Linked DNA regions of Homo sapiens. The protein of the gene in region 4 purifies or fractionates together with the protein of the main gene of each other region. This does not show direct contact. Each region holds a gene or a part of one and is shown on either strand. Other genes may lie near its edges. The genes, in order: STEAP3, LTAP1, MFAP3, MRAP2, FGFR2, RDH14 and ACVR2A.

Region 1 (4,604 bases), on a different chromosome or scaffold from region 4:
GAGGACTGCAATGTGCCTGCAGGGGGACCTCGTGGGTCAGAGCAGCGGGCTTCAAGGCGGAGAGGGCAGGCTGGAGCTGGCTTGTAGAAGGCCTTATGTGCTGGCTGAGGGCTCTACTGAGCCGAGGGACATCATCAAGGGGGGTGATTCTGAACTGAGGGATGGAGCTGCAGCCACAGCTGCCCATTCTGCACCATACGCAAAACTCTTTTGCTGAGCGGCTCCCAGGGCAGGCCACGGCCTTGGAGACAGCCATGTCGGGGGCCCATGGGGACTACCTGGATGAGCATTTTGCTTGTGGTTGCTGATGTCCACGAGCTGGGCAAGATGCTTACTGTTTGCAGCTTCCCTCCTTGAGTAGTTGGCCTGGCTTGGCAGGTGGGCCAGAGGCTGGGAGGCCTGGGCAGCAGAGAAAAGACCCCTAGCCTGGGAGCTAGAACCCCATTGGCTCCCACCTGTACCATTGACTGGCAGCTCACTTGAACAAGTCCCTGCCCCTCTGGCCCTCGGTTTCCTCAGCTGCTCAGTGAGGCCCTGCCCACTCCTGTGGCCTGTGACGCCGTCTGACTGCCCCACTTTTCTCCCGCAGGTGCCCATCTGCGGTGACCAGCCAGAAGCCAAGCGTGCTGTCTCGGAGATGGCGCTCGCCATGGGCTTCATGCCCGTGGACATGGGATCCCTGGCGTCAGCCTGGGAGGTGGAGGCCATGCCCCTGCGCCTCCTCCCGGCCTGGAAGGTGCCCACCCTGCTGGCCCTGGGGCTCTTCGTCTGCTTCTATGCCTACAACTTCGTCCGGGACGTTCTGCAGCCCTATGTGCAGGAAAGCCAGAACAAGTTCTTCAAGCTGCCCGTGTCCGTGGTCAACACCACACTGCCGTGCGTGGCCTACGTGCTGCTGTCACTCGTGTACTTGCCCGGCGTGCTGGCGGCTGCCCTGCAGCTGCGGCGCGGCACCAAGTACCAGCGCTTCCCCGACTGGCTGGACCACTGGCTACAGCACCGCAAGCAGATCGGGCTGCTCAGCTTCTTCTGCGCCGCCCTGCACGCCCTCTACAGCTTCTGCTTGCCGCTGCGCCGCGCCCACCGCTACGACCTGGTCAACCTGGCAGTCAAGCAGGTACCCACCCCATGCCCTTCCTCCCTCTGGCAACTCAGCACATGCTTGTCCAGCACCTCCCCCCCCCACCAACCAGGTGCAGCCGATACCCACGGGTGCAGCCTTACCAGGTGCCAACTGCAGATTCTGTTCCAATGGGGCAGCACCCACATCCTCCTGCCCAAGATTTTGAGTATCAGTGAACAAAGCAGATGAAAATTCCTGCCCCCATGGGTACAGCCCAGTTGGGGCAGACTTAAACAAAATACAGCAGTGAGTCATAGTGGGCGTTGAGAGGATCAGGAGTGCTAAGGCGCAAAGGAAAGCAAGCGTGGGCGGTGGGGGTGCAGGTTTGAAGATGGTCCAGGAGGACTTGCAGAGTGAGTGCTATGTGAGCAGAGCTGGAAGGAGGGGAGAGGGGCCGGTGGCCTGCTGGGGTGATGTTGCAGGCCACGGGGCATAGTCCTTGGGCAGAAGTGTGCCTGGTACGTTGGAGGAGCAGCCAGGAGGCCCATGTGGCTAAAGCTGAACAAGGAGGGGGTGGCAGGCGAGGCCTGAGAGGAAGAGCTTCAGCCTTAGGCTCCGAGTGAAATAGGGAGCTGGTGAAGGTTTGAATTTAGGTGTTGATCGGCCTGACATTTTAAGTGGTTCTCTCTGGTTTTTGGCTGAGAACAGACTGTAGGAGGTCAAAGGCAGCTAGCTGCTGGGGCCAGCGAGGAAGCCGTGCATATGCCCAGATTTGAGGCAGTGGAGGCTGGAGGCAGTGGGAGCAGTGGAGGAGCAAGGAGATCCTGAAGGCACATGTGAAGCTGGAGTGCATGGAATTGCCGCTGGAATGGCCCCAGGGTTTTGTGGGTGATCAGGGATGACTCTGGGGTTTGGGTCTGAGCACCTGAAAGAGAGAGTTGCCATCAGCTGAGATGGGGAAGGCTGCAGGAGTGAGCATTCCAGGTTTAGGTTTGTTGTTGTTGTTGTTGTTCTTTGTTTGTTTTACTGGGGGTGGCACTAATCATTCATTTAGAAAATTCATATGGGGCTTGGTTGCCAGCAGGGTTCCTGGGAAGTGGAGGACCTTCAGGCCACACCAGGTGGGGACCCAGGCATCAGCTGGCACCTGTGCCCACAGAAACAGGCCCCTGATGCTCCCTCCTGGTCCACAAGCTCATGGGGCTTGATTCTTAGTCCCAAGCTCACATCTTCAGCAACACTGTCTTTATTTTCTCCAAATTAATTCCACCTCCAGTGCCCAGCCCCGGGGCTGGTTGATGCATAGGTCCTGCCCACTCCAGGACGCTAGTCACCCAACAGGGTTCAGCCCAGGTGCTGGTGAGACACTTCTCATCCACCCCTCATTCCAGCCTGGCAGCCCCTGCAGCTCCTGCTCCTGCTCAGAATGCAGGGACCTTGGTGAGGCTGGGCCCTCCCCTAAACACCTAGCACAGGGCCATCCCCTCCGAGCATGGGGGATTGGCAGGACTGGGAAGCAGGGCTGGGCACCTCCTGAGAACCACAGACCTCAGCCCCTACTCACTGTCAGGGTTGCTGCTTCTCTGCCAGCAGCTACTCGACTGCCCTCGTCCTTTGCCACCCACAGATACCGGCATCATTGCATCTGTGGGCTCAGAATTTCCTAAGACAAAGGAAGAACCCCAGACTTCAGGCAGAAAAGCAAGATGCTTGATGGAAATGAGAGGAAGGGAAGAAATCAGTCATGAACCCTTAACAAGAGCTCGCTGTGTTCCAGGAACCATTCTAAGAGCTTCGTACACCACTGTGAATTCATTTAACCCCATCTCATCCCTGTAGGCCAGGTGCTATTATATCCTTATTTCATAGATGAGAAATCTGAGGCACAGAGGGGTCAAGTAACTTGGCCAAAGTCACACAGTCAGTAAGTAGCACAGCTGGGATTCAGATCCAGCTATTTTCCAGATCCATGCTTATACCCACGCTGCTTTCTACAGGCAAACCAAATTCACAATTGAGTAAATGATTTCAGAACTAGGTCATTCATTCACTCATTCACTGAGCACCTACTCTGCCAGGCCCTGGGGCCACAGAAAGGAGTAAGAAAGACACAGACCATCTGGCTCCTCGCCTCAGCTGGTGTGGGGCGGTGTGGAGGCCTGAAGGCTAGAGGCTGGACTCCTGCTCTCCAGCATCGCTGACTGGAACAAAGATCTTGACCTTGAGCAAGTCACAGCCCCTCTTTTGTCCTCGAGGCCCTGATGTGTAGATCAAGCTCTCTCCTAGTGCTAATGTTTTCAATGCTCTTTGACGATATTTTCTTACTGACTTCTACAAAGCACCAGCCCCTTGGCAGGAGGCTCTGCGGGGCTCCCTGGGGACTAGTACAATGTTGCTGCCCAGGACGGGGCAGATCTGCATGGAGGAGCCCACTCCCTCTCCCCTGAGCTGGCAGGTATTTCCAGCAGCAGTGGGAAAGACGGGGACGGTGCCCACTACCCCCCAGGGTAAAAGACACACCACTGCTCCCTCCCTCCCCTGCCACCCTTCAACTGCCTTTGTCTAAATTCTCTGCCCTGCCAAGGCTCTCCCTGATATTCTGTTAACCCAATTCTGCCCTGATGCAAATACCAGGGCACAGAGGGGCGCATGCAAGGTAATTTTCCCCGTGTCCCAAAAATCTTTAGGGCTGCAGGCCCTGGTGAGGTTGCCAGGCAACCATCCCTCCCGCAGGACGAGATCAGTCAGAGACACCGAAGGCCTCTCATGCAAAGGGGCTTAAACTTGTTCTGCAGAGTTCTTAAGGGCAAAACCAGGGCTGATGTGGTTATGTCGGGGTGGGTGGTCGGAGGGAGGCAGGGGCTTGACACACAGCAGCCCAGATACGGGGAGGTGCCCAAGCCTGGGCACATCCAAGCAGATTCTGGATGGTCCATGGTAAGCCATGCCCGCGGTTCTGGGCCTGGGCACCTGAGGCTGTTCTGCCTTCAGCCCCAAACAGCAGGGACTCCTGGGTGGCTCAGGCTTGATGTGTGGCTTCTGCTGCCAGCCCATGGGCACCTCACCACAGGGTCCCCACATGGCCACTCACCACCCCAACTGCCCACTAGGCCCTTGGGTCAAGGGAGCACATTAGTCTAGGCACAAGAAACTCCTCCAAGATTTCCTTACAGCCCTGAGTCTGCAGATTAGGAGGCAAAGGTGTATGCCAGCTGTAGAGAAAACCTTTGAGACCATGTTTACAGACAGTATTATTACCAACAATAACCGATATTTGTACAGGGCATTTGGATTTGCTTGTGTATTTCCCTGGAAATACACATTTCAACATCAAACTCAAAGATCAAGATCAAAGAAATGTTTAACCTGCACACTGTTCTCCTGTTACCTTCACCCCGTTCTCCTATTACCTTCACCCCAAGCTACATCTGCACATGGCTGGCACAGGATGGTCTGAAACTCTCATCTGACCATGTCACTGCTGAAAAGATCCAGTGACCCCAGTGTCCTTGGGATAATGGTAGAACCCTCACTATGCAGC
Region 2 (3,289 bases), on a different chromosome or scaffold from region 4:
GAGGGTGGATCACAAGGTCAGGAGTTCAAGACCAGCCTGGCCAACATGGTGAAACCTCGTCTTTACTGAAAATACAAAAATTAGCTGGGCATGCTGGCGGGCTCCTGTAATACCAGCTACTCGGGAGGCTGAGGCAGAAATCACTTGAACCCGGGAGGTGGAGGTTGCAATGAGCCGATATCATGCCATTGCACTTCAGCTGGGGTGACAAGAGCATGACTGTCTCAAAAAAAAAATAAAAATTAAAAATTAAAAAAATCTATTTTTACTACCACTTAAAGTATTAGTAACCATGTCTGAAACAAAGGCCATCGCTATAGAGTCAGCTGTTGAGCATTTGTGTCACAGGAGAGGATTCATGGCTTTTGTTTGGGAATGTTTTTAATACACACTAAACATAGTCTCGTATTTTCATGCAAATGTTAAAATCAAAGTTCTTGGCGAGAAAGGAAAGCCAATCTAGAGTAAAAACTTAGGCCGGGCGCAGTGGCTCACACCTGTAATCCCAACACTGGGAGGCCGAGGCAGGTGGATCATCTAAGGTCAGGAGTTCAAGACCAGCTTAACCAACATGGTGAAACCCCATCTCTACAAAAATACAAAAATTAGCCGGGCATGATGATGTGCGCACCTGTAATGCCAGCCACTCAGGAAGGTGAGGCAGGAGAATCGCTTGAACCTGGGAGGTGGAGGTTGCAGTGAGCCAAGATCGTGCCATTCCACTCCAGCCTAGGCGACAGAGCGAGACTCCATCTCAAAATAATAATAAACAGTTAGTTACCAGCCATAAAAATAATCTGTTTTCTGCTATGTTGAATATTGCTCTTTTTCAAGAGCTTAAGGGGTATGTCTCTCCTGTCTTCTCTCTGTCCCTAAAAATGAGCTACGTTGTCTTAAAAGATGAAAGGGCCAAGGCCTGGAGCAGTGGCTCACGTCTATAATCCCAGCACTTTGGGAGGCCAAGGTGGGCGGATCACTTGAGGCCAGGAGTTGGAGACCAGCCTGGCCAACATGACAAAACCTCATCTCTACTAAAAATATAAAAATTAGCCTGGTGTGGTGGCACATGCCTGTAATCCCAGCTATTCCAGAGGCTGAGGCAGGAGAATTGCTTGAACCCAGGAAGCAGAGGTTGCAGTGAGCCGAGATTGTGCCACTCCAGCGTGGGTGACAGAGCAAGAGTCTGTCTCGAAAAGATGAAAGGTCCTAGTAAAAACTGCTTAGAAGGCCAGCTGCAGTGGTTCGTACTTGTAATCCCAACACTTTGGGAGGCTGAGATGGGTGGATTACTTGAGCCCAGGAGATTGAGACCAACCTGGGCATCATAGTGTAACCCTGTCTCTACTAAAAATAAAAAAATTAGGCCAGGTGTGGTGGCTCACGCCTGTAATCCCAACACTTGGAGAGGCCGAGGCGGGCGGTTCATGAAATCAGGAGAGCGGGAACATCCTGGCTAACGTGAAAACCAGTCTCTACTAAAAATACAAAAAAAAAAAAATTAGCCGGGCGTGGTGGCGGGTGCCTGTAGTCCCAGCTACGTGGGAGGCTGGGGCAGGAGAATGGCATGAACCCAGGAGGCGGAGCTTGCAGTGAGCCAAGATCGCGCCACTGCACTCCAGCCTGGGCAACAGAGCAAGACTCCATCTCGAAAAAAAATTAGCTGGGAGTGGTGGCGACCACCTACCTGTAGTCCCAGCTACTCAGGAGCTGAGGTGCGTGTACCACTTGTGCCTGGGAGGCAGAGGTTGCAGTGAGCCAAGATCATGCCACTGCCCTCTAACCTGGGCAACAGAGTGAGACACTGTCTCAAAAAAAAAAAAAAAAAAAACTGCTTAGAGCACTGATGAAAATGAACATGTAGAAAGGCTGGAAAAGGGCATTTGGTCTAGAAGTCAGCAGAAGCCTGTTCAAAATTCACTTTCTTTGAAAGATAAATACTAGATGATTCCAGTTATATGAGATACCTAGGTAGTCAAACTCAGAGACAGAAAGTAGAATGATGGTTGCAGGGGCTGGAGAGTGGGGGAAATAGGGAGTTGTTCACTGGGTATAGTTTCAGTTTTGCAAGATGAAAATGTGGAGGTTGGTTGCACAACACTGTGAATATACTTAACACTACTGAACCATACATTTAAAAATTCTTAAGATGGTAAATTTTATGTTACATGTATTTTACCACAATCTTTTTAAAAATTATTTCTGAAGGCCAGGCATGGTGGCTCACGGCTGTAATCCCAGCACTTTGGGAGGCTGAGGCGGGTGGATCACCTGAGGTCAGGAGTTCAAGACCAGCCTGGCCAACATGGTGAAACCCTGTCTCTACTAAAAATAGAAAAATTGGCTGGGCATTGTGGTATGCACCTGCAATCCCCAGCTACTCGGGAGGCCGAGACAGGTCGCTTCAACCTAGGAGGCAGAGGTTGCAGTGAGCCAAGATTGTGCCACTGCACTCCAGCCTGAGCAACAGAGAAAAAGACTCCATCTCAAAAACAAAAAATTATGTTTGATTTGTAGTTTCTAGGAATGTTCATTGGGTTTAGTGAAGAGTATAGGCTTTGAAATCTGACAAACTTAGGTTTGAATCCCAGGTCTGTCACTTAACTAGTTTTGTGACCTCATACAAGCTAATTATTGGACCCTTAGTTTCCTAATCTGCAAAACAAGGTGATACCTATATTGGGGATACCTGTCTCTGAAAAAAAAGCTTGAGCCAGAGGCAAGAACTCTGGGAAATTGGTTTCTCTGCTGCTAGTTGTTTTTGGTATGAGTAGGTGTGTGTCAGGGTACCCAAACAGGGCCTTTATTCTGTCACCCAGGCTGGAGTGCTGCTACTTTTTTAGGGTGTGTGTGAGAGAGAGAGACAGGGTCTCAGTCTGTCGCCCAGACTGGAGTGCAGTGGCACATTCATGGCTCACTGCAGCCTCGAATTCTGGGTTCAAGCGATCCTCCTGCCTCAGCCTCCTGAGGAACCAGGACTACAGGTGCTTGCCACCATACCTGGCTAATTTTTTGCAGAGATAGGGTCTCACTTTGTTTCCCAGACTGGTCTCAAACTCCCCTGGGCTCAAGCGATCTCTGGCCTCTGCCTCCTGAAGTGCTGGGATTACAGGTATAAGTGACCATGCCCAGCCTCTCTGCTACTTTTTTTTTTTTTGAGATGGAGTCTTGCTCTGTCACCCAGGCTGAAGTGCAGTGGCGCAATCTTGGCTTGCAACCTCTGCCTCCTGGGTTCAAGTGATTCTCTTGCCTCAGCCTCCCGAGTAGCTGGGATTACAGGCACCCGCCACCA
Region 3 (4,604 bases), on a different chromosome or scaffold from region 4:
CCATTCATTCCTCCTGCAAGCAATTATCGTACATAGAGGCACCTCTGGGCTTCTCATGACTTTCTGTTCTGCTGCCTGAATCTATTCTTGGAGAATTACAATGCCAAATTGGAATTTTAAGCTTATCTCATGGGCAGTGAGAAATCACCAGTAGATTGTAAAATTACCCTGAATTGCTCAGATTTGTGTTTAGGACCAATTCTGAGTGTCACAGTGTTTGGATACATCATAGAGGTAAAAGGAGTTAAGGAGATCCATTCTGAAATTAAGGGGATAGTGTGGTATACCCAGGTGAGATAAAAGGATATGAGTTAGGACAGAGACAACAGGACTTAATTGAAAAATGTGTAGGAGGTGGAATAATAACAATAGCATATATTTATAATTTACCCACATTAGTTCATCTTATCCTCAAAACTACCCTATGATGCAGTTACTGTTAATATTATTTTATTTAATAAATGTGAAAACTAAGGCCTTGCAAGCCTATGGCTTCACCCAGGGGTAGGATCAGGCACCTTAACTCTAGAGCCCATTCTCCTAACCACTGAGCCATGATTGTCTTACAATTTTGATACTGCAAAACTGGAAGAATTGTCTGGCTATTATCTAAGCTGTTCATAAGCTGAACAAGTAGATCTGAGGGTAAGAGGAGTTCTGTTTTAACTAGACTGAGTTTCAAATAGAGATGTTTCAGACTATAGAGGGGGAAAAATGGCCTGGGAAGATCATAAATCTAAGCCTGTTTCATTGATGTTTTTGTCATTTGCATCCAGTAGCTATTCAGCAAATATACCTATGGCAAAAAGGATATAAGTTATGGGTATAACTGAAATAATCCTGGGTTTAAAGCAAAGCTCTGATAAATACAGACGATGTTTCTCCAGGTGCCAGAAGATATGTTGAAGTTTGAGCTCAGACTGACCAAATGCTAGTTATGGGGTATGTGATAGCTCCAAGGTAGTAATATAAAGGCTATTTTAATTAGAAACTTTTGAGTAAATGGCCCTCAGGATAGTGATTTCTGTTTGAATGTCACTAACCTTTTTTAGTTACAGATCCCTATAATAATGCTTGAGTCTAGGCAGAACAACTTTGTGTTTATTCTTTGCAAAGGGTAGGGTAGTGCTAACAACCTGCTCTTCATTTGCTTTTTCTCCCCTTTGCCGATTCAGAATGCTGCTTTGTCAATTTGTGTGCCTGCTGTAGGAACTGGTCCGTTTTCCAAGTGTGACAGTGCAGGCAGAGAAGGGTGGATGAGCTGTAAATGCAGCCTAGAACACATTTGATTATAGAGAATGAAGCACTAATATCCCAATATAATTGGAGTTTAAAAAAAAAAAATACCACCTGGGCATCAATGTGTTTCCCTGCTTTGCATTTTCCCAGAACTATTTCTGCAAACATCAGTTTCCTCAGCCAACTTAATATTGAGTCACCAGAACGGAAATCAGCCATATTACTTCCTTATTTGTGTTGAAAATTGGAACAGAATGGAAATATTTCTTCCCTCAGAAGTTGGCAGGAACGGCAACAAGACAATCTGTTAGGGGTGACAGCTATAGGCTCTTCTCTTTTTTAAAAATAATATAGTCAATATTCAACATGGTTTTCTGGGGTAAAATCATCCACATTTCTGATTCTTTATGATCCTAGCAAAGCTTACATTCTGTATACCTGAAAGATGAAAAAGGAGTTGGATTAAACTTGAGTCTTACACTTATCTATTACATTTTTATTTATTAATGCTGAAGAAAGGTAATATAGGCTGGGCGCGGTGGCTCACGCCTGTAATCCCAGCACTTTGGGAGGCCGAGGCAGCCAGATCACCTGAGGTTGGGAGTTCAAGATCAGCCTGTCCAACATGGAGAAACCCCGTCTCTACTAAAAATACAAAAAATTAGCCAGGCGTGGTGGTGCATGCCTGTAATCCCAGTTACTTGCGAGGCTGAGGTGGGAGAATCGCTTGAACCTGGGGGGTGGAGGTTGCAGTGAGCCGAGATCTCACCATTGCGCTCCAGCCTGGGCAACAAGAGCGAAACTCCGTCACACACACACACACACACAAAAAGGAAAGGTAATAAAAAATTTTATCAAGTAACTTCATCCACAAACATAGTATAGCCCTTTTTAACTGATAAGAAGAAGGTGACACTTTGGTTTTCCTTTTTGAAATCTGTTCTTGGGTTTCAAATGTCAGCTGCTACATTAAAAACAGCAGGCATAATATATATATATATATTTTTTTTTCCAAATACAAATGCACGTACTCTTGTGTCTCCCATGGCATCTAATATACCTGCCTTAATGACCTCAGCCCACTTAACTGATTTGGTGAACAATTCTGCATCTGAGGCTGTATATGTGAGGAAAAATTAAAGGATTGGAAATGAAAGTAAAATAACTATAGTATAAAGGATCATATGTTCAAAGCATGCAGGCCTAATATTATAGGAAGTCCCAAACATATAAGTGAATTGCATTCCTAGAACTGACACATTTGTCTTTTCTCTGTTGCATTCACAATATAATTACATTTCAGTCACATTGTCTTAGATACAGTTGGCTGTTTCTGGGCTGTCTTTCAAGCTGGTTTGTAAATTCCTGAGGGTCTAGGACAGTGTCCTAATTCTCCTTAGCAACTCTTGCACCACCTACTGTACTTCATCTTCCACGATGGATCCTTGACCTAGCTGAGCTGTAGTTTTAAAGTCATTAGTCTAGAATGAGCAGAATGGTCATAGTCAATGCAGTTTGTGCTGCAAGTAGCAGAAACCCATTCAAGCTGACTTAGCAAAAAGGAGACTTAGTGTGAGGAAATAATAGTACCCTGATACCAAGGATGATTTGTTCTTCCCTCACTATTTTTTTCTGCTTTGTCACCTTCTTGGACACGTATCTTTGCCAGTGTTTTCTCTCACAGCTGCTGAACAGCCTGTTACCTGCAAATGGGTTATATCCGTTAGTCTTTCAAATCAGAAGTCCTCTGTGTTCAGGATGTACATGGTATGAGTGAAGTGCCCAGTATTAACTGGATGTGTAAGGCTATTGTGCAGCCTCTTTCTCTTGTGGCTCAAAATCAGTGTGCCAGGTTTCTTCTGCCATGTTTGGCCTAAGAGCAGTTTAAGGGAGTTTATAGTGTTTTCCTAAATCCTGTCTGGTAGGTAGAGGCAAATGGCTATGTCTGTACAACACAAGAACCACAAATCTTGGCCACATGGGCAGTTTGCTTGCCACACTCCACTGTGTAAGGAAGAGACTAGAGATCTATGATGAAGATTGCCTGGCAGCCACAGACACAGTTCAATAACTTTTTGTGAACTTAATCTTTTTTCTCCTGCCTAACCATTTCCGCATTTATTACGTGTTTGCACATTCATCTTCACTTTTGTGGTTTTAATTTTGAGTAAAATTTAATAAAGTTGTTTCTTTTTTTAAAAAAAAAAAAGGGTCACAGGAGTGCCAGGAAGTAGAATTCTATCAGGCACCAAAGCACCATGTATGAGTCTCTCTTTGTCTTTCTCCTGCTCCTCTTCCTGTCTTCCCACTCTCTCCCTTCCCCATCCCTCTTGTCCTTTCTTACAGCTTCTCCTTGTATGTGGCCCAAACCTGACTGCCTCAGCCCCCACATGCCTCCTTTTCCTCAAATGACCCTGACCCACAAGGGTCTCAATTCCAAGTTCCAAGAACAAAGATTCTATTAGCTTACTTTGCCAATAGGTTGTCTTCCTCCTAGACCCAAGAAGATAGGGATAGGGCTCAAAGAGGGGAGCCGTTGGGTAAGTAGATCACGACAAATCTTCTCTACCACAAACTGAGGACACATACAATGTCATATCATGGTTGGGATCCAAGCTCAGTTTACAATGCCTATATGCTCCATAATATTGCAAAATATTTGCAATGAGAAAAAGAAAAATGTGAAATTTTAAATTTAAGATTAAAACTGCATAATGGTGTCCCCTTCCCCCCAACCCCCAAGATTTTTAAATGGTTGCATGGTATTCTGAGTGTTTTATAATGATGTAACTATCAAATGTAAATTTTAGTTCAATATCTGAAAGAACCATGAACAATAATAATAGAGCTTATTCAGTGATTACCATTGCCAGACTCTGTGTTTTATGTATACTACCTCATTCAGACTTTGCAATAATCCTGTGAGAATAGATTCTGTTATTTTGCCCATTTTAAAGATGAGGGGCTGAGGCAGGGAGATTAAGTCATTTATAAAAGTTGCAAGGCTGGTTAGAGTCACAGATCGTATTTGAATCCTATACTCTGAACCTCTCTGCTACCCTGCTCTTATTAGAGACCTTCAATTTTGCTGATCTAGAGTAATCTAAATCTAGAATGGAATGTGAGTGATTATATCTCTCATTGGAAATATTCAAATAGCCTGAAGCACCATTCTGCAGGTCAGTTGCAGAGGAAATTGAGGAACTGTATTAGTGGCCCTTAGATGCAGTACATGAATCCAATGCCTCAGAAACACCCAGGGAGCCAATTAAAAGTCATAAATTCCAAGGCGCAAACACAGAGTTTCTTACTCGTTCTGGGTTGGGACCTGGGAATCCATATTTTTAAAAAGCTCTCCTGACAGT
Region 4 (4,604 bases):
GTGTTTCATCTGAGAAGCAACCTCAGATGGTGCTTGAGAATTCTTTTGCCATCAGTTTTGAATCCAATATTAAACCTTATCATGTATCAGAAGTGGACATGTATCTGATACAGATTTGGCACCAACAAAGTGGAAACCTATTTATTTATTCATTCATTCAATATATATTTATTGAGCACCTGTTATGTGCAGTACTATTTTAAGCACTGGAGAGACAACAGTGAACTGAAAAGACAGAAATATTTCCTTGTATAGAGCTTGCATTCTAGTGGGAGAGACAGACAATAAATAGTTAAATAGATAATGTCAGATGGCAATATAAAAGGATAAATAGAGTGGGGGTAAAGGGATGTGGAGTGTGGAGGCGACAGTATAGAATTGCCATCGAAAGCCTTACTGAGAAGGAGAGATTTGATAAAAGACCTGAAGGAAGTGAGAGATTGAGCTATAATATATCTGGGGGAAGAACATCCCAGAAAAGGATCCTTGGCGGGAGTGAACTGGATCATGCAAGGAGGCCAGCGTGGTACCAGGGGAGTGATAAGAGGCAGAACAGCAGGAAACGAAGTCAAAGAGGCTGTGGGGACAAGGACATGGGGGGGCCTTAGAGGTCATGCTAAGGACTTTGTTTGGCCTTTTACTCTGAGAAGTCACTGGAGGGTCTGGAGCAGAGGAGTGCCATCTGGCTTAGGTTTCAACAGATCACTCTGCAACTGCGGAGTGAAAGGCATGAGATTAGAAGCAGAGACCATTCAGGAGGCTTTTGCCATAGTCCAGGCAGCTGATGATGGTGGCTTGGAGCCAGGTAGGGAGAGTGAAGTGGTGAGAAATGCATACATTCTGGATATTTTTAAAAGATGGATCTGGCAAGATTTGTCAATGGATTGGCGGTATGTGTAAGAGAAAGAAGAGTCAAGAATGATTTGAAGATTTATGACCTGAGTAACTGGCAGGATGGAATTGCCTTTAACTGAGAGGGGGAAGAGTATGGGAGAAGGAGGTTTCAGAGAGGAACCCCAGGAGCTCTGTTTTGGACCTGTTAAATTGAGACATCTATCACATATCCAGGAGGACAAGGGAGGAGAGGTGTCGGGGGAAGCCGTAGACTTGAGAGTCATCAGCATGTAAACGGTATGCGTTCAAAGCCAAGAGGCTGGATAAGTGAGTGTAGACAGAAAACTGAAGAGTCCAATGCTGAGCCCTGGGCACGCTTGTGTTTAGAAGTTGGAGGGTTGCATAGCAGCATAGGTGCCTGAGAGGAATGTACAGAAAGTAGGAAGAAAACTGGACAATTGTGGTTTTTTGGACGCCAACTGAAAAAAGGGTTGCAAAGACAGTCTGTGTCAAATGCTGCTATTAGGTCAAGTTAATTGAAGACTGAGATTTGACCATTGGATTTATAATGTAGAAGTTACTGGCAATGATTTGAAAAGCAGTTTTAGTGGAATGCTGGGGGTAAAAGGTTGATGGAATTGGTTCAAGAAAAAATGAGAGGAGAGGAATTGGGGACAGCATGTACAGACAAATCTCTCAAGTGTCTCACTATAAAGGGAAGGAGAGGAATGGGTCATTTATGAAGAGTGTGGCTGGGTGAGACAGGGTGTTCTTAAAGCATCAGAAGCAAAAGCTGATGAGTCAATGAGTGGACAATCACATTTTAGCAGGACCACTCTGGCCGCTGTGTTGAGAAAAGACTAAAGGAATAGCCTCTTAATTTGAGCTATCAGTGGTGGCCAAATTCATGCTTTTTCGTGTGCCACCTTGCAGATACCAGACCCATGCATGGATGGGTCAGCAAGAAGCCAGGTCATTAGGATGAGAAACAGCTAGAGTTTGCAAAGGCTTGGAGTAAGATAGTAGAGACAAGTGTGGGAACATCACTGTTGGCTCTTTGCCAGGAATTCATATCACAGAATTGGCCCTACTGCCTTAGGAACAAAAAGTGGTGTGAGGAAAGTGTCATGAACCTCTCTTTCAAGTGAAGTATTAACCCTTGTTTTTCATATAACCACGAAGTGGAAAGTTCACCATTTATTCTCAGGAGGTGGAGAGGAGGGTGAGTCGGATGGAGTAGTTAACCTAGTCCTACCCTAGATTGGGAAGGAAAAAAATCATGTCAACTTTCAGCTCTCTTGTTCCATTCCATTCATTAAAGGTTAGGTTAAGGGGGGTTACTTTATTCTGACGCATTCCATTTGCAATTCCCCTGGGCAATTGTTCTACCCCTTTACAATAGTAGTCTCTAAGTAGCTCAGTGTCTAGACAGGACAGAGTGTGGTAGCTTGGCGGTGGTGGAAACTCGTTTGGAAGGCTTCTTTTGACTTTCTTAACCATCTAGCCTCATTGGAGCTTTGCTCTGTATAAAGCTTTATTCTGACTTCTTCCCAGAAAAGGATGCTTTTGGGAAGACAACGGGCTCCACTTTTCCCATCTTACTGTAGTGCCTATGCCCATGAAACTTACATGTGAATAAAACTTCAGGAGAGTTTGGATATTTCTGGGATGAGATGGGGATCTCTGATGTTTCTTGTAAGAGGCTCAGGGTGAGAAAATCCCCTGGGGATGGGTCATAGGGCAGAAGATGAGGTTGGGGGAAATTAGTGGAAATAACTTGAGGAAGCTAAATTTTGTTCAAAGGGAAATGTGAATAAGCAGAGCTACTTAAAGCATATTGCCATGAAAAACATAGATGCCGCATTATTAAGGAAATGTTTGGAAATGCTGTTGGATCATGAGGATTCTCAGATTTTACCCACAGCCTGCCTCTCCCCAACTCTGCCGCCACCTGCCTTCTCTGAAGGCTGTAACCCTCCCATGCTTCACATTATTGCTGCTTTTTGATTATCTCCCTGGGGGTACTTAGAAGGGCAGAGGGAAGGGGGACTGGGCTGGGTTGAGGGCACGCTTTCCTCCACCTCTGGGAGTCAGTCCACCATTTGCAGTGTGAAAGCTGTCCTTAGGAGAACACCTTCCTAATACACAGATTTGAAAAATGTCAATCAACATGATTCAATTCTAAACCGAAGACTTAAATATAGCATTGGTGTATAATTTTAGAATTTGCTTTTGCTATGCAGGCAGTTGATAAAGTACAGTGTAGGGAACTGTTATTTATCTGTACAATGTTTCTTCACAGTCCATGCCTAGATAGTTGAGATTTAATTGTTTCATGTTAGTTGTACCTCAGTACATGTGGTGTTTGGTATTTGTCCTTACATCTTTTTTTTTTTTTGAGACGGAGTCTTGCTCTGTCACCCAGGCTGCAGTGCTGTGGCGCGATCTTGGCTCACTGCAAGCTCCACCTGCCGGGTTCACGCCATTCTCCTGCCTCAGCCTCCCGAGTAGCTGGGACTACAGGCGCCTGCCACCACACCCGGCTAATTTTTTTTTTTTTTTTTTTTGTATTTTTAGTAGAGACGGGGTTTCACTGTCTTAGCCAGGATGGTTTTGATCTCCTGACCTCGTGATCTGCCCGCCTCGGCCTCCCAAAGTGCTGGGATTACAGGCGTGAGCCACTGCGCCTGGCCCTTATGTCTTTTTTTATGCCTCATTTCTACTATATTAAAAGGCAAAGTATACAATTTCTATTTCTTTGGCACTTAAGGTTAGACACATTAGTTTTTCAGAGTGCTGAATACACATTGTTAACCTCTAGGCAATAGTATATGTAGGATGAAAGTATGAATTATGCAGAGTAAATTGTTAATCTGATTTCTTCACTTTGGAAAAAGTGCTACATATACATAATTTAATTAGAATAAAGCTTTGCATTTAAACACATTTAATATTTAAGCTCTAATCACTTATTTTTAGAAAATTGCTAAGCATCCTCATTGTATTTCCACATAGACAAGCTTCTTAGTGTAGGCCAAAAAATGTAGAATGATTCAACTCTGTTGTGTCCTAGATTTGAGGCCTTATTGTGCAAGTACCAAGTTCTGTAGACAATCCAATCTAACCCTGGTCCTAGAGATAAAGAATTGTGATTGTTATCCAAGATAGGACCAAGGAGAGCCCTGTTTAGGGAATTACAGACAAAAATGTTATTGGGTTCAAAGGAGGGAGACAACACATCAATTATGGAAATTAGTTGAGGCTTAGTAGATAGTGTAGCGGATGGACTTGGAAGGATGGATACACTTTCATTAGCTCCACGTTGGGAAAAGTTGTTCCAGCCAGGTAGTGGTAAGAGCCCTGGTAAGGTGTGGCTGTGAGGAAGCTGTGGCTAAGGTAAATACAGGGACACAGTGTCCCCTAGTTTGATTGGAAACACATGGCTTTTAAAGTGGTAAATTGGGAGAAAATGACAATTCTAATGACAGTAGCCAGCACCTGTGGTGTACTGTTTTCTCAGATGTCAGACATTGTATAAAGTGCTTTATGTGTGGAATCTCTTTTACTCTGGAAAAGTGGGTCAGTTCTGTTTTTGTTGGAGAGCTTTTCATGAAAGAGCAATATCATCAGGGCTGTGATTAAAGCAGGTTTGTACAGAAATAAAGCACAGGGAAAGGCAGAAGGCAGAGAGAGCACTCAAGAGGCCATCTGTATGTTCTCTGCAAGAAGTAATGAGAGCCTGAATTATCCATGGTGAACGTAAGTGAGAA
Region 5 (3,910 bases), on a different chromosome or scaffold from region 4:
GGAGCTGCTTTGGTGCTGGGCAGGGTGTCAGGGGAGGGAAGACTGGAGACCAGCCCATGGAAATACGCATTTTCCTTCAGCCTCCAAAGCATCTTTAGGGTGTGACGCCATTGTGAGATGTCACTGTGGCCCAGGGTTACCAGGGAAAACACATAGCTGTGTCTTTCTTGATGGCTTCGATGCCTTTCTAACATGTTTTTGTAAGTCAAAGTGCCTTTCGGAGGAACTGGCAGGGAAGCTTTTGGGAAAGTGATTCATGACCCCCTAATCTAGTTGCTTGGAAGGTTCTGATGCATTTTCCTAATTTACACCACGTCCCCATATTGCCTATTAAAACTGACTATAACCACGTACCCAGTGCATATGAAATTAATTCAAGGAAATCCATTTTTCCCAGGTACATGATGATGAGGGACTGTTGGCATGCAGTGCCCTCCCAGAGACCAACGTTCAAGCAGTTGGTAGAAGACTTGGATCGAATTCTCACTCTCACAACCAATGAGGTAAGAACTTCCTTCTAGAAGCCCCTTGTCCTTGGTTGTCTTGTGAGACATGCGTAGTGTTTTACACACACACTCCCCTGTTGGCTGTTGGTTGGAGTCTGTGGTCTTGTTTATTCTTTTTCCATAGGGTCAGATAGTTCAACTATGGGTTCCTCTCAAATCATGATTTTTCTCAGAACTTCATTTTGTGAGTTCTGACTCATGAAACCAAAGACAGAGGGACATCCCCGAGGCTGCCTTCAGTGTAGCTGCTGGTGGAGCAGTCCGGGGTATGTGGGAGAGTGGGAAAGGGGAAGCAGTATTCACTTGCATTTTGGTGTGCATGGGAAAAAGCTTGGATTCCTGTGCAAGTTTGATTCTGTGCTTTGGTCATTAGTGGGTAAACTGATAATGTTCGTCATCATTTGCTTGATGGAATACAATGAAGTTTTCTAACACCAGCTTCTGTTACCACAGTACTATCCTATGTGATCCTGTTGGTAATGCTATATGCCTTGCAGCCTCTTTCTAGGTGTATATAAACATACACTGTTTTCTACAATGAGCAACTTACATGATTTTTACATAAAAACATGTACCTTTTGTTAAAATATTTATTTTCCCTAAAATATTTATGCTCTCGCCTGTAATCCCAGCATTTTGGGAAGCCGAGGAGGGCAGATCACCTGAGGCCAGGAGTTCGAGAGCAGCCTGGCCAACATGGCGAAACCCTGTCTCTACTAAAAATACAAAAATTAGTTGGATGTGGTGGTATGTGCCTGTAATCCCAGCTACTTAGGAGGCGAGGTAGGGGAATCGCTTGAACCCAGGAGGTGAAGTTTGCAGTGACTGAGATTGCGCCACTGCACTCCAGTCTGGGAGACAGAGCAAGACTTCATCTCAAAAAGAAAATAATAATAATTTATGATCCTTGCCAACAAAATAAACACTCGTCTGTCACTCACTGTGCAAATTTAGCCATGTCAGTGGCTCCTTCAATATGCAGATAGAGTGCCTTTTATAATTATGGAAAGCATATGCTCTGAGCAGGAAAGATGATAAACCCATCAAGTCTAGTCAAATCTTAAGATAGAGAAATTGTTAATGAATGTATTTTGAGATATTTAATGAGGATGCACAATAGTGTTCTTTTACACAGGAAACTAACTCCAAACCATGCAATTGTCTCAACAAGAAAAAAGTTAAAGTCCCCCAAGTATTTTAGAAGGAAAATAATACACTTAATTTCTGATTTAGGAAATAGTTTTAGAGTGATTTTTTAAAAAGTAATAATCAAATGTAGTGATATGAAGTCTTAGCTCAGCAGCTTTATCTTATGCGTCTGACTGTGGCCTGTGCTGGATAAAGGAAGAGATTGCACTTAAATGAATACAGCTGACCTTCAGAAGTTGAAAGGAAAGGAACGGTTCAAGGGGGGGAAGAAACCAACTTTCTTCTTCTGCCAAAATTGTTGTTTCTAGTATAAGTTCCTTTAACTGTAGACTTGGAATCTACTGATATCCCTGTTTTTTTCCTATCAGATCTGAAAGTTTATGGCTTCATTGAGAAACTGGGAAAAGTTGGTCAGGCGCAGTGGCTCATGCCTGTAATCCCAGCACTTTGGGAGGCCGAGGCAGGCGGATCATGAGGTCAGGAGTTCCAGACCAGCCTGGCCAACATGGTGAAACCCTGTCTCTACTAAAGATACAAAAAATTAGCCGGGCGTGTTGGTGTGCACCTGTAATCCCAGCTACTCCGGGAGGCTGAGGCAGGAGAGTCACTTGAACCGGGGAGGCGGAGGTTGCAGTGAGCCGAGATCATGCCATTGCATTCCAGCCTTGGCGACAGAGCGAGACTCCGTCTCAAAAAAAAAAAAAATAAAAATAAAAAAGAAAGAAACCGGGAAAAGCACTAAAGTTCTATTTTAATGATCTCATGTCTATGCTCAAAGTGATTTATTTATATATTTACATGTAGAGTGGGTCCGTTGATACTGAAATTTGTATCTAGTACCCTAAAATAAAAAAGCAGAATGCCATATTGTCTGGTGGATATAAAAATCGAAGTTTCTTTCCTTCTGAAAATCATTACCATATGCTCAAGAAAAACGGTTCCATTTAGGACAAAATTTCGTTTTTATCATTGTAAGCAAAAAGTTCTCTTTTGATGTGGTGGGCGTGTTTGTTTCCAGTTGTGTGGTTAATGCTGATGTTGTTGGAACTGATACATTCCCCTTCTGGGATGCTGGGATGGGGACTCTTTCTCTTGCCAACCCTGGTGATGAATTAGAGGGTTTTGTGTGTGTGTGTGTGTGTGTGTGTGTGTGTGTCTTTAAAAATGTCTAGTTGCCAACATTCCATGGGCTCTTTTCTGATAACACTGAGGCTGTTTGTGCTGTGGTCTGCACTTTTTGCCCCCTCTCAGCAAAACCACATGTCATAGAATAGTTGTTGGCTTCTGGATGTGTGAGCAGAACTGCCCCACTGTGCCAGCCCAGTGGAGGCAGAGAGACCCACAAGTTCCCAATTTAGAAAGCTTTTCATAGCTTCAGAACAGGGGTCGGCAACTGCTTTCTGTAAAGGGCCAGGGAGTAAATATTTTCAGCTTTGCCGGCCCTGTGGTCTCTGTTGCAACTTCGCCACTGTAGCCTCAAAGTAGCCACAGACAATATGTAAATAGATGTGTTCTAGTCTGTCTTCTAGTAAAATTTTATGGATCCTGAAATTGGAATTTTATATAATTGTATATAAATTTTATTCATTTTAATCCTATAAGATATTCTTCTTCTTTTGATTTTTTTTTTCAACCGCTTACCAATGTTAAAGACCATCTTTAGCCCTCAGGCCATACAAAGTCGTCTGTGGGCACCCAAGTCGGAGGAAGTGTCACCCTGGGGTGATCCAGAGGGCTTTTTGCAGCACCAGCACTGGATGCCTTGGGGAGCAAAGGACACTTTCTGAATCTCGAACCTTCAAAACTTTGAAACTTAACCGATATTTTCCTGAAGTTTCCTTTAACAGTGCATTATGGATTTAACATACATGAGTATGTCTAAGCCTTTTTTGAACCTGTTTACATTTTCAACTCGGAGAGCTTCTGAGAGTAATCAGTTACATCTGTTAAATTACCCACTGAATGAAGAAGTATTCCCCTTCAATTATCCCCGAAACTACAATAGTAAAATGTAATTCAGAAAATAAATATTCATAGTCTCAACTACTTAAAGGGGGTCTGGGGACCCACAACATGTTACCGGTTTTCATTTTGCTGGGGCTCGCATTTGAAGCAAGGGCTCTAGTGAGGAGGTGGTGTAGACTCAGCGGGTTATTTAGGTCCGTGTGAAGCCGAGTTGCCTGCCCAGCACCTATAGCTCAACTAGGTTTTATTGTTCTCTACCTGTCAATAGTTGATTTATGATGGATTCCAAG
Region 6 (4,535 bases), on a different chromosome or scaffold from region 4:
CAACTTAGTAGCTATTTGAGAAGATAACATAATTGAAAGAAAAAAATAATATGTTTATTTTGTTCTTAAACAGCCATAACTACTAATGGGAAATGTATCTCTGTTGGTCATTACACCAGTGTCTGAAACCTTGGAATCAGATTGGACACTTCCACCCTCATTTCCTGTTCTAGGTAGATTTTTAGCATTGTTCTTGTTTTTTATTACAGCAACTGCTAACAGCTGCTTAAAAGTCAGCTCCACAAAGAAATAATGTCATTGAAAGGAATATAGCACAATGTAATGTTCAAGCTGTGAACCACCTGGAGCTAGTAGTTTTGAGGTATTGAGCAAATATCACTGTGTTTCCCTCGAAAATTTAAAATATTCCACAACACCCTGAGAGTTTGCTGCAATGCTGTAGGCCACAGTTCGGGAGCTGTTGCAGAACTAGAGAGTTGGTTTTTTGTTTATTGCTAGTATTTAATTATGTGTAACACAGGTTAAGAAATAATACTCATCAGTGAGATTTTGGAAGCATTAAAGATGGATCTTTCTGTTCCTCTTTAAAATATAGATGGGGCTGGGTTTGCTTCTTTGGCACTTGAGGCAGAACTAATTAAAAAGTGAGGACACAAAGAGATAATTAAGTTGTCCTTGCTTCTAAGTAAGTATTTCTGTTCCTGCCTGGCTCTGAAGTTAAGTGACTATAATTAGAAGGAAAAAAAAATGGAAATGTAGATTTCCCACAGGTTGGTATTCTTGGTATTTATTTCATTTATCTCGTAGAATTTAAAAAAATAGTAAATGACAAAATTTTAAAATAACACAAGCCCAGCAAAGAATGCTGGATAACAAATGATTAATTCAGGAAAATCTTCCAAAGGATTTGTGAAAAAGAATACTCCTTTCTTTCCCCCATGAGTGAACTCTTGCCTTCTTTTTGAAGTTGACTATTGGAAAACCCAAAGATGCTTAGACAGGGCAGAATGAGAAATAGTTAATCCTCTGACAGGTGGGCTTCGATAACAGTTGTGAAATGTAACACATTTTTCTTTTCACTTATAGTTGGCAGAAGGGCCAGTGAAATTTGAAAGTTGACCTCATATTAATCATGGGTCATCACAGTGTCTTTACACTTGGAACATGTGCATTTCTTTGTCCATCAAAAGAAACAGAACAACCGAGAAAAGGCTAGAGAAGACCATCTTACATGATTTAAGGAATAAAAAGACTTCCCTATGAGAACAGTCTAAATTTTAGGACTTTAATTTGGAAAGATACAGAAGCATAAGTTCAGAGTATAAAATGTTGACTGTACAGATCTCCTAGAGTCCCCTTTACGCTGGATATTTTTATATTACCTGATTATTTTTTTCTTAATCTTTGATTATTCTTTATGAATCTCGATTTATTCATGATGTTCTCTCCAGTGTTAAGTTTGCATTTCTGACCTTTTCTATTGCTTGTTTCACTTTTAAGGAAATGACTTGAAGTTGTTCCACCCCCATGGTGCCATTTACCCTGAGAGAACTACAGAATAAAGCAACCATAAGTTTGCCCTTGGTGTTGATAACCAGTAGCTCTGGGAATAAACTATGCTTACCTGTTTTCTACAGCATATGGTCTGTCTAGCTTTCATTGCCTCTCTAGCTGTTTTGAAAATCCCAATTAGAAAGCCATGCCAGCTTACTAATTAAGAAAATAGGCCTTGGTGTCAAAGACTTCATCTTCAGATCTGATCTTATTTTGCTACTTAGGAGTTCTGATACTGGGCAAGTCACCTAGCCTGTGAGCTTCATTTGCTTATACAGTTGTTGGAATTAGATGTGGTGACATGCGAAAAGCACAAAGCCTGGCTCCTATCAAGCTTCTGCATCTATTTTTTTTTCTATTTTTCTCTCAATTATTGGAAGCTCATAGAAGCATTTTGGGATAGAATTTTAGTAGTTTGCAAGTATTTTTAAACATTTTATCATAGGTACACTTATAATTTTGATATGATCTCAGTATTAACCTGATAACTCCCAAATTGATATTTTCCTAGTTCAACTGAAATTAAAGGGAGAAATATGGGATTGTAGGAGTGCCTTGTCCTCAAATTGACTGTATTTCTGTTTTGAGAAAGATCTTGGTACTGATCACGTAGTCAACTTTCTAATGCAATGTTAAAGTTTATATATTTGTAAATGTTATTGTTATAAAAGCATAAAACCAGAAATTAAGTCTTAGATTTAGTTTCTACATCTTTTATTGGAAGATGACTGTAGATAAATATCTTTCTGTATATCATTTTAATAAATGAGAAAAAAGAGCTGTTGAATGAAAGATCATGAACATCAGTATTTATCTGAGGAACATCCTGCGGAGGAATCCCTTTCCCCATTTATTAAACACAAAATTGCCAGTGTTTCAAGTAGTTCTCTGATCGATAGACCAACAACTGAAATTAAATGCTTTTAGTCTCAAGTGCCCATTTTTATTAAAATGTAATTATCATGAACAGAAAAAGCAATACAAGGCGTGTGTTCTTAATAATTCTGCCATTCTCTTTTTGACATTTAAAGGAAGAGCCTAGGCTGGATGTCTTGATCAATAACGCAGGGATCTTCCAGTGCCCTTACATGAAGACTGAAGATGGGTTTGAGATGCAGTTCGGAGTGAACCATCTGGGGCACTTTCTACTCACCAATCTTCTCCTTGGACTCCTCAAAAGTTCAGCTCCCAGCAGGATTGTGGTAGTTTCTTCCAAACTTTATAAATACGGAGACATCAATTTTGATGACTTGAACAGTGAACAAAGCTATAATAAAAGCTTTTGTTATAGCCGGAGCAAACTGGCTAACATTCTTTTTACCAGGGAACTAGCCCGCCGCTTAGAAGGCACAAATGTCACCGTCAATGTGTTGCATCCTGGTATTGTACGGACAAATCTGGGGAGGCACATACACATTCCACTGTTGGTCAAACCACTCTTCAATTTGGTGTCATGGGCTTTTTTCAAAACTCCAGTAGAAGGTGCCCAGACTTCCATTTATTTGGCCTCTTCACCTGAGGTAGAAGGAGTGTCAGGAAGATACTTTGGGGATTGTAAAGAGGAAGAACTGTTGCCCAAAGCTATGGATGAATCTGTTGCAAGAAAACTCTGGGATATCAGTGAAGTGATGGTTGGCCTGCTAAAATAGGAACAAGGAGTAAAAGAGCTGTTTATAAAACTGCATATCAGTTATATCTGTGATCAGGAATGGTGTGGATTGAGAACTTGTTACTTGAAGAAAAAGAATTTTGATATTGGAATAGCCTGCTAAGAGGTACATGTGGGTATTTTGGAGTTACTGAAAAATTATTTTTGGGATAAGAGAATTTCAGCAAAGATGTTTTAAATATATATAGTAAGTATAATGAATAATAAGTACAATGAAAAATACAATTATATTGTAAAATTATAACTGGGCAAGCATGGATGACATATTAATATTTGTCAGAATTAAGTGACTCAAAGTGCTATCGAGAGGTTTTTCAAGTATCTTTGAGTTTCATGGCCAAAGTGTTAACTAGTTTTACTACAATGTTTGGTGTTTGTGTGGAAATTATCTGCCTGGTGTGTGCACACAAGTCTTACTTGGAATAAATTTACTGGTACAAATTCTTAACTGTGCATTTCTTTGGAGGCTTCACTGAATACAGTCCTTTATCATGTCACCATTAGCCTATGCTGATCTTGGTCTGCCCAGTCTCTTCTTGCCACGTATCTTGTACACTGCTCTGAGAGATAATATTCCTAAAACCCAAATCTATCACATTCCTGCTTAAAAAACAGTGGGTTTTGAGCCTTAAAAAAAAAAAAATTTGGCAGAATTCTTTCTTCAAAAGCGGTGTTTCACTGAAACGTAGAAGCTGGAGGGGGTAAAGCAGGTTATCGCAATGCTGCCAAGGTGGAGTCCCCCACGGCAATTCCTAAAGGGATTTCATAGAATATAGTGGTTTATAAACCACTTTTATTTAGACTAAAGATTAAACTGTTGAAGATAGAGTTGAGGCTCCATGAGACAGCACCATGCTTACCCTATACTCTCATACTCAGCACTGTTCAGTAGAACTTTGCAGTGAGGAAAGGAATACTCTGTGTTGTCTGATGTGATGGACTCTAGAAACATGGGATTATTAAGTACTTCAAATTCAACTGAGAACTGAATTTCTAATTATATGTAATGTTAATTTAAATAGGCACATGTCTAGCAACTGGTATCTTGGACAGTACATCTCTGGTCATCCCATCAGATAATCCAGTCCTGATTTTAGAACAGTCACCTACTCACTTGCTTTGGGCCTTTCTTTATATTGTTCTTTCAGTCTGGAATGCCATCTCCTTTTTCCTTGGAAATACGACTTACCCTTCAGGTTCCTTTCAAATGTGTTCCTTTCTCCAGCCCCCGTAGGCAGAGACAATTCTCTCTTCCTACTTTTTTTTTCCCCCTTGATCTTGGTACTTTTACTAGGAGTTTAGTGCACTAATTATTCATTCACAGGTTCAGTCAGATAATCAGAATAGAAAT
Region 7 (4,604 bases), on a different chromosome or scaffold from region 4:
AGGCCATATGTATAAGGAGACTTTTCTTTTTACCTATAAGAGGTTGTGAGTTTCCCTTTCAGGGAAAAATAATATCCAAGAAACAATCTTTCTGGAATGGTTCAAATGGTTCAAATTTCCTTCCATTTCACATTAATAAACATTTGACCAGAAGGAAATACCAGAGCTTTAAACTTTTGTTACAAGAATAGTCAACTTCCACCAATCTATAAGACAAGTTTGTTTTTTTTTTTTTTTAAAGACTAGTTGAAAATCTAAGGTTCTAGAAAATATTTTAAAAGTTAAAATATCCTGACTATAGAGTTGTTATATCATGGGACTAGCAGAACACAAAATAACAACATAAAATAACAACTAATATGTAGAATATTCCTCTAGATTATTGTTGTCCTTTAGGTCAAGATAAGAGAAGTAAAAGAACCACTTACATTTCACAATGATGAAACCAATTACCAAAAACATAATTTCCTACTTCATTAATGGTACTTTCACACTGACTCTAAAAGTAGAAAAATTGAGGAAAACTAGCAATTACATTTTGGTGATAATTACCCTGCAAGTTAGTGACAGATCAAAGATCAGATAAATTTCCTGACTCTGGTTTTGTCACAAGCAAGACTGATTAAAACTTAAAAAAATGGTTCACGTAATCAAAATGAATTGTAAATGGTAAATGAAAATTACTAAGCATTACCTACACTAAAATAAATGTTTGTAAGAGTAATTACAGCACAAGAAATAAGGAACAAAAGGGTGGTTTATATGAGTAGAGTTTTAGGTTAAAAAGTTGCCATCTTTGCTCTTTTATTAAAATAAACTACCTTTTAAAACATTTTTATTCAAGAATGATTTTTATTTTCAGGTTAAATATTAATCAACTATAAGATGTCTCGAAAAATAACTCTGAGGGATTTATAGCCAGCATTAGGTAGGCAGGCCAACTCAGACTTTACTAAAGTAAAACGTTAAGTAGTTTTACCTTTTCATGAAATGCTGTGATCAGCCAAAGATCCACATCAACACTGGTGCCTCGTTTTTCTGCACCAATGAACTGTAATATGTTCTCATGCTTCATTCCAGGCAAACTGTAGACTTCGTATTCATTTTGCCATGACTGTTTGTCCTAGAGTCAAAAAGAAAGAATAGTAAGAACACAAGGAATACAGGTTTAATAAACCATGCATAAGAGATTACTCAAATAAGTTCCAAAGTAAAACAAAACAAAACAAAAAAGTCTTAAAAAATTTTTTGTTCTGTTTTGTAATAAGAAAAAGCTCTGACAATAGGTTAACAAATTTATACTAAATGCCTGCCCTTTTCATTCCCTCAAAACGTACTTTTCTGTGTTTCTAGTTTACAAACACAGAAGGTGATCGGAAATGCTGCATTCTGTGTCTTACAATGGCAACACGTAAGTTACTGCAAGTATTACACTGTAATTTCATCATGGTGTGAAGTTACTTGTGGTACTATTCAGAATAATCTCCTTGAAAGATGAAATTCCGGCAGAATGACTTCCTCTAAATAGAAAACTTCTTCTTTTCAAAAACTAACATAATATCAAACATCCTTCAAAAAATGTTTAGCATACCCTACAAGGTCTATGAGAAAGCAAGGGGCAAAGATATGCAATGCAATAATTTAAGACACCATATATTCACTTGTGCCTGCAAGCAATCCATGTCTACTAAGTATCTACTTATAAAAGATTAGCTTCTTTTCACTACTAAAAGACAATAATAGTAAGAGGCACTATGGCATAATGGTTAGAAACCCTTAGAAACTCTCTGCATCCAAACTGTCCAAACTTAAATCCTGGCTCTCCCACTAACCTCTGGCAAGTTACATAATCCTTCAGTGTCCTCATTAAGTAGAAAAGGCATTGTAGTGTCTGTCTTATAGAATTGTTGTATTATATGTTGCATTTTATGTACATGTGGGTAATATACGTACACATATTAGTGAGTACTCATATATGTAAAACACCCCTACCTGACCCAATAAAAGCATACAATAAAATGTTAGCTACTGTTGTTGCTGTTGTCGGGCTTGTTAATATCATCCAAATGCCTTTCTCTGAGCTTTATGCTTCCTTACACATGGAAATAATTTCTTCCCTTATCTTATTTATGAATCTTGGCACAACAGAATACACTTTCTCTCTGAAAACTAAACTGTGGTTTACAGCTACCAAAAAAAAATGTAATACAGTTCATAAACTCTATGTAAACAGTTTATAGACTGAACAGAGGAGGTAAGATTGAACAGAGGAGGTAAAAAGGTTAAAATCTAGGTATATTAAGACAAAGAAACTGCTTATATGATAACTTTGGAAAAAGAAACATCCACTCTCTAAGTATGGTGGTAGAGCCTGCAACACCAAATCCAGCCAAGACGTCAGTACCAAGGGTATCATGAGCTGCCAGGGTATATAAGCAAGAGATGGGGAAGACAGAATCATCATAAATCTATACCACCAACGGAACAAAACAAAACACAAGAATAGCTCAGAGGTACATTAGATCAGAGTTTTATGAGAAGTCCAGCCAACCTTAAAAACAATTCAACAGTAAACCAATTATTTGAAGTCTCGATTGCCTCTGAAAATGCATCAAACAAAAACTGAAATAATTAAACACTCAAAGTAGAATGAAAGTAAGTCAAGTCTGGTGATATACCTCTAAATACCAATTCTAAAACAAAGTATACTGCTCTTTTGTTTTTTTGTTTGCTTTCTCTGACAACGTAGGGGGATATTAAAATTTAACCACTCAATTAGACTTGTTTATTGGAATCTTTATCTTTATTTAACATTTCTATTAGAATTTTCACTGGCAAAAGATCTACTATGCATTCATTTAATTCCACCACTCCAGACAAACATAATGATTGTTATATTAACAATTCCATTTCTCAGATGCAAAGGCAGGCATTAAAAGAGCTAACTGCTTTCCCCAGTATCACAAAGAACCACCTTGGTACATATGGCTTCTGTTTTGAGACTATTTCTGAGTTATGATGACCTAGCCATAAAACATGTATGTAAGATGACAAAACTGCAATAAACATACCTGTATTGGAAATATTTTGACAGCCACATATTCGTTAAGCAACTGGGCTTTCCAGACACAACCAAATCTTCCCCTTGCTTTCACTTCTAATAACTGCAGTGGTTTCAAACCTAGTAATGGAGAAGGTGGGGGTGGTCCTGGGTCCTACAGATAAATAATAATAATACTATAAATAAGCAGAACATGACACACACCAACTCTGAAAATGAGAAAAAAAGTGAGTATACTGAAAAGTCAACTGACAGAAACAGTAAACACATATGAATGACATTAACTTCAATGTTGCCATAATTAGATTACTAATTATCTATAGTGATCACAAGGCAGGCAACCTGAATTCAGAGTTTCATAATAATGTTCAGCATTATTGCTATATATGTACCACAGGAGAGAAGATCTAAAATCTTTCTGATCAGTCTCAGTAATATTCCCCACTAAGATTTTCTGTGAACTACGAAATACTCCTAACAATATTTCATTTGTTTCATCCAGTGTGTACTTCGAGGAGGATGATTTGAAAAGTGCCAGAAACAGCAAATTATGACTATATATCAGCAAAAACCTCTCCTGAAGATCTATTACTTTCTCCAGTGACTGTTTAAATTTTTTCTTCATTAATCTCAGAGATACCGGCAGTCATTCTTAAACACATTGCAGATAGGTATATCAAATACAAAGCACATACAGGAAATATGTAAGTAAATATTTCTTTAACCAAACTGGTTCATTCTAATTTTAAACATATTAACAATTCATCCCTTTGATCTGAGATAAAAAATCATTTGTGTTCTGGAACTGACTGACTGGCAAAGAAGTACGAATAAAAATCCAGAAAAGAAGTGGTCATCATAGTAGATAACAGGATATGGTAAATGAAAGAAACGTGCACTGCTATAGTTTTTTAAAAATAGAGCAAACATAATATATAAATAGGAATACAGCATCTACAAATCACAAGGAAATCCTATCAAAGCAGAATGCAACCCTCCATTGAAAGCATTCTCTCAGTTCCCTATCTGCAACTAAAGCAAGATGCAGGAAGCCTTTTGGAAAGCTTCCAGAGAAAAGCAACAGAAGGGTTTGGAGGGCTGCATAATGAGTATTTTGAGGAGGAACTAAAATTTCTGTGGCAAAAGCAACTGATATGATGACACTGGGTGGCACCTCAGACACTTGGAAATGGTATGTGATCCCAGATCAATGCATCCTCTCTGCCTTTCTTTTTCTCTCTTCTTCTAATGCCTCAAAGACAGTTAGTGCTTTCTTTAGGCATCACTCAGCTCACTGGTGCCACTCAGGAGTTTTAAAAGTTTACTGTGTACTAGAAAGAACCTCAGCAACAGAAACATTGCAAGGTGTTATGTAGGAAAAACATGCAATTTCTTCTTCTAAATGAAACCATCTTTATAAAATGGCTTTAGAATTCCTGTTTAAACAGTAAGATAAAACAAAAGACTTCTTGTGACTCATTTCAAACTCAGACTTTTTTTTTTTTTTTTTTTTTTTTTTTTTGTCTACAAGTTGCTTGTCCTT

What was found.
Region 1: the proteins of MRAP2 (region 4) and STEAP3 purify together in Homo sapiens (affinity purification with mass spectrometry; 2 studies listed by BioGRID and IntAct, with this or other methods). This does not show direct contact.
Region 2: the proteins of MRAP2 (region 4) and LTAP1 purify together in Homo sapiens (affinity purification with mass spectrometry; 2 studies listed by BioGRID and IntAct, with this or other methods). This does not show direct contact.
Region 3: the proteins of MRAP2 (region 4) and MFAP3 purify together in Homo sapiens (affinity purification with mass spectrometry; 2 studies listed by BioGRID and IntAct, with this or other methods). This does not show direct contact.
Region 5: the proteins of MRAP2 (region 4) and FGFR2 purify together in Homo sapiens (affinity purification with mass spectrometry; 2 studies listed by BioGRID and IntAct, with this or other methods). This does not show direct contact.
Region 6: the proteins of MRAP2 (region 4) and RDH14 purify together in Homo sapiens (co-immunoprecipitation; 3 studies listed by BioGRID and IntAct, with this or other methods). This does not show direct contact.
Region 7: the proteins of MRAP2 (region 4) and ACVR2A purify together in Homo sapiens (affinity purification with mass spectrometry; 2 studies listed by BioGRID and IntAct, with this or other methods). This does not show direct contact.

Annotation. Positions count from the first base shown.
Region 1 is NC_000002.12:119,247,090-119,251,693, forward strand, and holds part of STEAP3 (metalloreductase STEAP3), read left to right. Parts: intron 1-589; coding exon 590-1,117; intron 1,118-1,224; exon of another isoform or gene 1,225-1,982; intron 1,983-4,604.
Region 2 is NC_000001.11:154,207,963-154,211,251, reverse strand, and holds part of LTAP1 (protein C1orf43), read left to right. Parts: intron 1-3,289. UniProt on the Homo sapiens protein: General regulator of phagocytosis. Required to uptake Gram negative bacterium by macrophages.
Region 3 is NC_000005.10:154,041,502-154,046,105, forward strand, and holds part of MFAP3 (microfibril-associated glycoprotein 3 isoform 1 precursor), read left to right. Parts: intron 1-4,604. UniProt on the Homo sapiens protein: Component of the elastin-associated microfibrils.
Region 4 is NC_000006.12:84,057,472-84,062,075, forward strand, and holds part of MRAP2 (melanocortin-2 receptor accessory protein 2), read left to right. Parts: intron 1-4,604. UniProt on the Homo sapiens protein: Modulator of melanocortin receptor 4 (MC4R), a receptor involved in energy homeostasis. Plays a central role in the control of energy homeostasis and body weight regulation by increasing ligand-sensitivity of MC4R and MC4R-mediated generation of cAMP.
Region 5 is NC_000010.11:121,480,291-121,484,200, reverse strand, and holds part of FGFR2 (fibroblast growth factor receptor 2 isoform 1 precursor), read left to right. Parts: intron 1-397; coding exon 398-503; intron 504-2,023; coding exon of another isoform or gene 2,024-2,029; exon of another isoform or gene 2,030-2,377; intron 2,378-3,910. UniProt on the Homo sapiens protein: Tyrosine-protein kinase that acts as a cell-surface receptor for fibroblast growth factors and plays an essential role in the regulation of cell proliferation, differentiation, migration and apoptosis, and in the regulation of embryonic development.
Region 6 is NC_000002.12:18,553,820-18,558,354, reverse strand, and holds the end of RDH14 (retinol dehydrogenase 14), read left to right. Parts: intron 1-2,546; coding exon 2,547-3,164; 3' UTR 3,165-3,632; downstream 3,633-4,535. Other genes in the region: NT5C1B-RDH14 protein, read left to right, coding at 2,547-3,164. UniProt on the Homo sapiens protein: Retinol dehydrogenase with a clear preference for NADP. Displays high activity towards 9-cis, 11-cis and all-trans-retinol. Shows a very weak activity towards 13-cis-retinol. Has no activity towards steroid.
Region 7 is NC_000002.12:147,913,802-147,918,405, reverse strand, and holds part of ACVR2A (activin receptor type-2A isoform 1 precursor), read right to left. Parts: intron 3,216-4,604; coding exon 3,072-3,215; intron 1,124-3,071; coding exon 980-1,123; intron 1-979. UniProt on the Homo sapiens protein: On ligand binding, forms a receptor complex consisting of two type II and two type I transmembrane serine/threonine kinases.